Regions from separate parts of the Homo sapiens genome. Here all the other regions are linked to region 3. Evidence: fine-mapped expression QTL. A gene starts in region 3. Each other region holds a variant in brackets. All regions are shown on one strand. Distances are between the middles of the regions.

Evidence for each region. PIP is the estimated chance that this variant, and not a neighbour inherited with it, causes the effect. A credible set is the group of variants that fine-mapping cannot tell apart.
Region 1: its variant is the best candidate, but not a certain one, in a credible set for the expression of IL18RAP in whole blood (INTERVAL, PIP 0.86).
Region 2: its variant is the best candidate, but not a certain one, in a credible set for the expression of IL18RAP in whole blood (INTERVAL, PIP 0.82).

The regions. Positions count from the first base shown.
Region 1 is chr2:102,497,563-102,500,409 of GRCh38, reverse strand. All of the region lies in intron 2 of SLC9A4 (solute carrier family 9 member A4), which reads right to left. Among named protein-coding and RNA genes, the nearest start is that of SLC9A4, 26 kb to the right of the region's middle. The variant G/C (reference allele first, on the strand shown) is at 1,009.
Region 2 is chr2:102,383,831-102,386,330 of GRCh38, reverse strand. IL18R1 (interleukin 18 receptor 1) reads right to left here. Exons shown (of 11, transcript NM_003855.5): 7 at 1,333-1,453. Among named protein-coding and RNA genes, the nearest start is that of IL18R1, 29 kb to the right of the region's middle. The variant G/A (reference allele first, on the strand shown) is at 1,141.
Region 3 is chr2:102,421,650-102,424,149 of GRCh38, reverse strand. IL18RAP (interleukin 18 receptor accessory protein) reads right to left here and starts at 990. Exons shown (of 10, transcript NM_001393487.1): 1 at 803-990; 2 at 15-339. The coding sequence starts at 872.

The DNA.
Region 1 (2,847 bases), 76 kb before region 3:
GCTAGGTGGCTCAAATTAACAAAAATGTATCCTCTCACTGTTGTGGAGACTAAGAGTCTGGACTCGAGATGTCGGCAGTGCTACGCGCCCCCTGAAGGCGTTAGGGGAGGGCCCTTCCTTGCCTCTTATGAGCTTCTTCTGGTGACTGCCGGCAGTCCTCACCGTTCCTAGGTTTGTGAGTGCATCACTCCAGTCCCTGCCTGCGTCTTCACCTGGTCTTCTCTGTGTGTCTCCTCTGTGTCATATCACCTTCTTATAAGGACATCAGGCATTGGATTAGGGCCCACCATAGTCCAGTGCGAGCTCGCCTTCAATAAGGATAACTGTAAAGACACTGTTTCCAGTTACGATCCTATCCTGCAGTTCCAGGTGAGCATGGATTTTTGAGGGGACACTATTCCAGCCAGTACAGCTTTTATAAACAAAATGACCATACTGTGAAATTAACTTGTGTTACAGACTAGAAGTTTTCGTTATAAATCTCTCAGAGCACAAATAATTTTATTTTGAATTTTACAAGGTCTTAAACTCTGGCTTATTCCCCAAATGGTTCAATCATGTTTCTTAAGAGAGCCTAGGATGCAGGTTTTGAGTGTATAAATTAGTGCTCACTGTTCAATGTAATAAGTAACCAGTAGCCAATAAGCATGTTTAGATAAGGGAATGTGGGCAGAAGGTTATAATAGGCTTGCCTTCTTCCCTCAAAGATAAGTTTCTAGTGTATTTTCTGGGAGGAGAGGAAGCTGGGGAAGATGAAGAAGAATCAGAAAGCTTGGTGCCAATGGGTCCAAGCAAGTACACACACAACATACAGACACATGCAATAGACACACACAACAGACACACAAGCAACAGACACATGCAACAGACACACAGACACACACACATACCATGAACATTGTGAATTTCTCGTATTAGGAAAAGAATTACTTAAAAAGAGAAAGACTTGCAGAGATCTTAAACTGAATTTGGTTAAGAATATACATGAAAAAGTGTAGAAATTGTCCA[G/C]AAACAAAAGAGCAAAGGGAAACCCCCACAAAAGTCCCACAATCCCTCCTAGAGAAAACTACTACAGATATGTATTTTCTAATTCTATCTATCTATCTATCTATCTATCCATCTATATATCATCTATCCATCTGCTGTCTATCATCCATCTCTCTATCTGGGGCCATCAGAGCCCCTCAGATCTCTAACTGCAGGGATGCCCATCTGCCATTCTCAGCTAAGGCCTGAGCTTGGCAGGGACACTGAGATAGGCCCCTTCCTGGAAGGCAAAGGACTCCTTGGATACGTGTTTCAGCCTGTGGGTTCCTGATGAGCTTAATAAACTCTCTAAGAAGTGCAGCAAAGACAGTCCCATCCAGCTTCTGTCCTTCCCTCTCTCCTTCCCCTGGAATCACTCTGCACTGCGACCTGAGGGCTCTCCCATCCCCCTGGGCTTCTTCCCCATTTTCCCTCACAGGAGTTTCTTTAGTAAAACTCTTGTACATTTAATGCACTCTGAGTGTCTGATCCATGAAGGACCTGGACAACATCTATTGGTCTGTTTGTGTATCAATCACACTTTACAAAACTGCTAAAATCCTGGTCTATTTTATTTAAACAAACTGAAGCCATGCTTTAAGAAAACCTGGGCTGAGTATTTGAAAAAAAATGTGACATATGATTTTGAATGAATCCAAAAGAATCTCAGTGGTTGTGTCTTGACTCGGTGAGTTTGTTTGTCCAATTTCACTTTCTGCCACATATGGGTCTTAGAAGGCCTGAGTATTGCACTGTTGGAGTTGAGCTCACACTGAAAGGAGTGAAGCCACAGTGAGGAGTCACACACTCCCCACAATCCCAGAAAAGGAAAGTCTGAATGAGGTTAAGTGGAACCTGTTTATTTGACTCTCAAATCCAAAGGAAACTCAGAGAATATGACCGAGACTCAAAGATTTGAATATTGTTGCCACAAACTAAAACTCTTTCACATAGCTTGTTAGATTATTAGTAGCTACCCAGACTGTCCCAATGGCCTGGGAAAGTCAACTGGGCCAGCCTTGTCTCTGGACACCAGTGTGCCCTGCCAGGAAGATGCCATGGCAGTTTCAGAAGCTAAAGTAGTACATATAATTAAGAAGACTGCATTTACAATCACAATCCTTACTACTGCACGAAAAACAGTTCTTACCTTTCAAATTACCAGGCTCTGGGTAACATTATAGTTGCAAAAGATTTTCTTTGGGTTCATTTCAAGTCACAATAATGTGTGTGTGTCTTTTATACACTGAAGGGAAAAGCTCAGCCAATGCTAAATCTCAAACATGTCCACAGCCCCATGGAGAACAAGGTTAGATTTTTCCTCTTCACTCATTGTCTCAGCAAACGGTCCTTTTTGTTACCTTTAACAGATTTTCCAAGCCTTCCAACATTATAATAATTATGATCCTTTAGCTGATGCCACTGTAAAAGTTTGCAAAGCCCTTTTAACACACAGAGACTCACACAATGACTAAAAACATTAGTCCTTCGACCAGGGCTCAGCAGAGATGAAGAGTCAATTCCAAATGTGCTGACATTTTTTTTCTTGTTAACTTTATTGAGGAAAGACTTACATATGGTAAACTGCATCTAAAATGAATGAATTCTGGGCATTGTAGATACTCATAAAGCCATCGCCATAGTCAAGATATAGAAAAATCCCAAGAACCCTGAAAGGTTCCTCATTCATTTGAAGTCCATCCTTCTCTCCGACCCTGGCCCCAGGAAATCTCTAATTTATTATTGTCACAATAGATTAATTTGCATTTTATACAGTTTGAATAATAAATTATGAACTCCTTTTTTCGGGCTTATTTAACT
Region 2 (2,500 bases), 38 kb after region 3:
AAATGACTTGAGAAAGCCACTGGCAGCACGTTCTTTTTCTCTTCCTTAAAGGATTCAAGTTGTCCTGTGGTTGATGCCAGGTAAACACTTATGACATCCACTTCCCCCACCAATGACAGGCTCTGATAGCTACACCAGTCAACACAGCCAGACATGGGCCCCATGTGCCCACATTCCTAGCAACAGGGATATCTAGGACCCGGGACACAGAGCCCCACTGTAGCCTCCAACTGCCTCAAGTACATTTTGGAATGTAATTCTTTTCCTAAGTCACCCATCCAGAAATAACAACCATCTAAAACCAATGAAATCCAGAAGTAAAACACAGGAGGCCATTGAGAGGACAAAACAGATGATATCAAAGGTGTGTGCACCCAACTATAAAGAAAGACCTCTCTGCTTTTGTAGCTTAAGCTGCATTTCTAAGAAATTCACTGTGGTTTTCTACCCCTCTAAAAATTAGAAAGAGATTATCCAAAGGGAGAAATACAAAACTCAAATGGAGGCCAGTGGCTGAGGATGAGATATGATGGCAGGAGATCCACAAATTTCAAATGAATTCAACATGTAGTGGGCATGAACCACATGCCTGCTCCCGGGCAAGAAGCCAGACTTTGTGGTGTAAAGAGCTTGTAGACAAGTGTCAGCAAGAATGTAGAGCTGCAAGCATGGTAACAAAGAAGGTACCAAAAAATGTGTAAAAAGCAGAAGAAAAAACTCAACAAGTGCAGCAAAGGTGGTAGACAACTTAGGCTCAGCACTCACTAGACCCTGAGTAGTGTATCAGTATAATAATGAATACTTACAGTATGACCCAAAGTCATTCAGAAAAGCTTAGGTGACTATATGTTTAGACTGATTCTTTTTATAAGTTTGACCATTCCTTAATGGAAGAATATAGGCTTATTTAACTATCAATATGCATGCCATTTGGAGCCTTTTTGGCCCATTAGAAAAATAAACAACTTAACAAATTTTTCAAAATAAAAAAAAGCTTGGCCTAGGCAACTGCCCTTTTCTAAGAAGCTAAGTAAAATCCCCATCCCCATCGGATCCTGACTGACCAAGTGCTACTTTATAAGGTGATGCTAAATACCCTCAATGGCCTTCTCATGGACCTTCTTTTCCAGCTTAGATCTT[G/A]GCAATACATTTCTGCATAATGCGTCCACCTAGGGTATGGCCACTATAATTATAAAATATGTCCATTATAATTATAATTTAAACTAGCCCAAAATACACATCAGCCACCCAGTGTTTTTAATATGATGTTATATATAATATATATGATTGTTATATGGTATATATCATGACATATATATTACACATACATACATAATTCTCATTTCTTTCTCTTCATGTATATTAGGATCCGATCCATTTTCTTCCCCGAACATCCAATAAATTACATCCTCTTCATTCAGCAAAGCAGAGCAGTTGAGCCTTACGTTTTTTCCTGGTAAAAGTTGGCAACTAAAGTTCTGATTTTTGAAACTCAGGTTTCTTAAAAGTTTCAAAACAATATAATCAATGTATGTTAACCTAAAGCAAAACGTGGTGCTCCATCCCAGAAAGAGAATAAATATGCCTTGCTTTAAATAAAACAAAATATATAAAGCAGAAGAAATAGGTAGCAATTACAAGTCATCATCAAAACATGATTTGGCTTCTTTTTAAACATTTATTTTTTAATCAACTATTAAAACTTAGAGTGATCAGTGTACTTTCTTTTCGTAGCATCAGGACAATACTCTCACTGAGACTTCTAGATAAACCAAATGGATAAATCACAAAAAAATTAAATTAAGCAAACATTAAAGACATCAAAGTACAGAGAAAATAAAGAGAAATTTTTGAACTACAAGCGTACTTAAGAAGGATCCTTTCTAGGGTGAGCTAAGATAGGTGGCCATTTCATTCCATGGAAGAATTTGCTTTGGTTTGTAATTAACAGAAAGAGTCTCATAGAAACAAGAAAATCCAGTGAAGCTCTCGGCAGCTGCACAGGCTTGCAGAATTACTGCTAAGCGCTCGGACAGCGTAAAAGGATGTAAAGGCTGTATGATATCACTTGCAGTCTCATGGTAATCAGGAGAGCAAGTCTCATTAGAGAAGAGGCCTGCATCAAACACATGACTGCAGCACCCCCTCCCTCACCAGCTATCAGAGATGAAGACAGATTGGAGTGAACATACCTACATCCCAGCCACCCCAACTCAATTCTGAGTCAACTGAGATACTCAACTCTCAGGCTACCTACTTGTAAGAAAAAATAACACAAACTGTATTCACTTTAATTGTTTGATACATAAAGATCAACAACAATAAAAAGTTAAGAGACATACAAAGACACAGAAAATGTGCACCATAATCAATAGAAAAGACAGCTAATAGAAGCAGACCTACAGATGCTGAATTTAGCAGATTAAAAACTGTAACTGTTTGAAAGAAAATAGAGGAAAAGATAAACAAGTGGATGGAAATATGGTCATTTTCAACAAAG
Region 3 (2,500 bases):
TATTTGGATCATACTTAATCATCTTGGGTCTACAAATATATGACCCAGAATTATTCACCCCTGGGGTCAAAAAGTGAAGGGTACATTTGTCCTGAATGATGTGAGGATAGCTTTTCCTAATGTCCTCTAATGGATCTCCATTCGAAGGTTGTTGGTACCATTGGACATCAGATAGGTCGTTACTACCCATGAAGGGCAGGTGCTCAGGGACTTGTTTTGGTGAGAGTCGATTTCTGTGGCAGAAATGTGATTTCTGTGGCTCTGGTAAATCACAAAATAAGACAAATTCCTCTTCACTCCTTGTAGAATATGTCCAAAGGAGTTTTTTTGTGGAACAACCTGAAAATCATAATAAACAAAGCACATGGAAACACATTAGAAAATGGAATTCTAGCTTATATTTACATCTAGTACTTGATTTAACAAGAGATCTAGCTTCCTTGTGTGTCTTTCTTCTTCACTGTCTATTTTGTAGGGGAAAGGAAGTGCCTGTTCTAATTCCCTCCCAGTGGACTCCAGCATACCAGCAGCAGCCCTGGTTTCCTGGAAAAGATGGTAGAACTCTGGCTCATCCCTCGTCAGCTGATCTCACTGAACACTCAACTACAGTAACAGGGTACCTCGACAATGCTTGGTATCAGCTGAAAGCTGTTCACCCTAATAATTCTCCTCTCAGTCCCCTTTTAATAGTAGGATGGAAAGGTTTGTATTAATATATCACACTGCTGATATATCAGGTTATCCATCACTTTACACTTGACCACAGACTCACAGTGCTAACATGAAAAGTGAAAACCCCTACCTGAAATATTAAATCCTTTAATTCGCTCTCCTGCAACAAGCCAAAGAAATATCCAGCCCAAACAGAGCATTGTTCTCCCGTGTTCCTGTCATCACTCCAATAACTTCATTCCTTTGCCAGAGTAGAGTGTTTTGAGATTCAGAACTCTGCCCTGAGTATCCCCTTCATTTCTGTAAATCAAGAAATGGGAAATGAAGAAGTCAGAACCAGTGAACAAAGTGCATCTCACACAGGAAGCTTTGAAAGGGCAGGTCCTACCCAAACCGGCCTTCACTTGCCTATAACTTACGTGAGTATTTCCAATGGTGTGTAGCAACCTTTTCACTTGTGTCATTTCTTACAAATCATCTCAAGCTCCCAATATCCCTAGGCTCTATGCAGTGTGTTCTTTTAATGCCATTTTTCCCCTCATTAATCTTTTTTCTTTGATGTGCTCACCTAGCATGTGTATTTCCATGAGTAATTTGAAAAGAGTTATGTTTAACTTTTCCTGAAAAAATGACCCAAGTTGAATAAAACTGTCAGATTTTTCACGGTTAGGAAAGCTAGAGATATAGCTCCTATTTATAAAATTTGAGAATGTTTGCATATACTAGTCTATTCTATTAGAGAATAGAGGCCACCTACCTCTCCCTGCCCCACATGCAAGAGGGAAAATTGTCACTGGATGGCACCACTATCAACTCTCAAATATGAAAGGGGGAGCAGGTCCCCTCCAGAGAATCAGATCTGGGCTGTGTCCAAAGGACTTGAGTCCCCTCTCTTGATAAGGCAGTCATGGGACCTTTCAAACCACTTACTTGAAATATCTTGGGGATCCAGCTGGAGCATTCCCAGGGCAGAGGGGTGGGGAGGCATATGGCTCAGAGCAGGGTCTCAGTTTCAGCAGCTGGAGGGAGCCTGGGGCATCTGTAACAAGCCTGGATTGTTTCTGTTGCCCCATAAGGGAGGGCAGATGAACTTCCCTGAGGAACCTCAACCTTTAAAAGTAGGCCAGGGCTAATGGAAAATAAAGAATGACAAACCTAAAAGGAATGCAAGGAGCAGAGCAGAGAGACCACCTTGGCAATCCAGACAGAGAAAGCTTGGAGGAGAGACTAGACATCAGTTTCAGAAGCTGCAGAGGAGTTGGGCATGAGAAGGACTGAAAAGTGTCCACCAAAGAGTCTTGGTTTGGCCACCAAAAGCTCAGCATGTGCAGCTGGGGTGAGATAACGGAGAGCTTCAGGGTGGAGAGAGAGGAGTAGAGGGAATGTGGGAAGCGGGGAAGAACCACGCCTGCTAGAGTCTGCATGATGCAGGAAGACAGGAGGAAGTGTTTGCTCATTTCTGGAGATGAGAGGGCCTTGGGTAGGATTCCACTGCGAGGGGAATGCGTCAGCAGGTCAGTGAGGACAAATACAAGTGAGAGTGAGGAGAGGGTGCATGGACTGCTTTCTCCCAGGAAGCCAGAAGAAGTGGGGTCCCTGATACCATGGGGAGATTAATCTTGGACAAGAGGCAGGTAGAACCATGCAGGTGAAAAGGAAAGTCTGCCCAGACCACTTTGTCCAGGTGGAGCCAGAAAGTACAGGAAAGTACAGGATGCTACCACCTGGCTGCTGATGCTGACCTGGCTGTCTGCTGAGAGCAAGGCGTGTTCATGGAAGAAAGAAAGGGGGTTCTGTGCAATGCGCCTTGCAGAATGCCACGGATAGG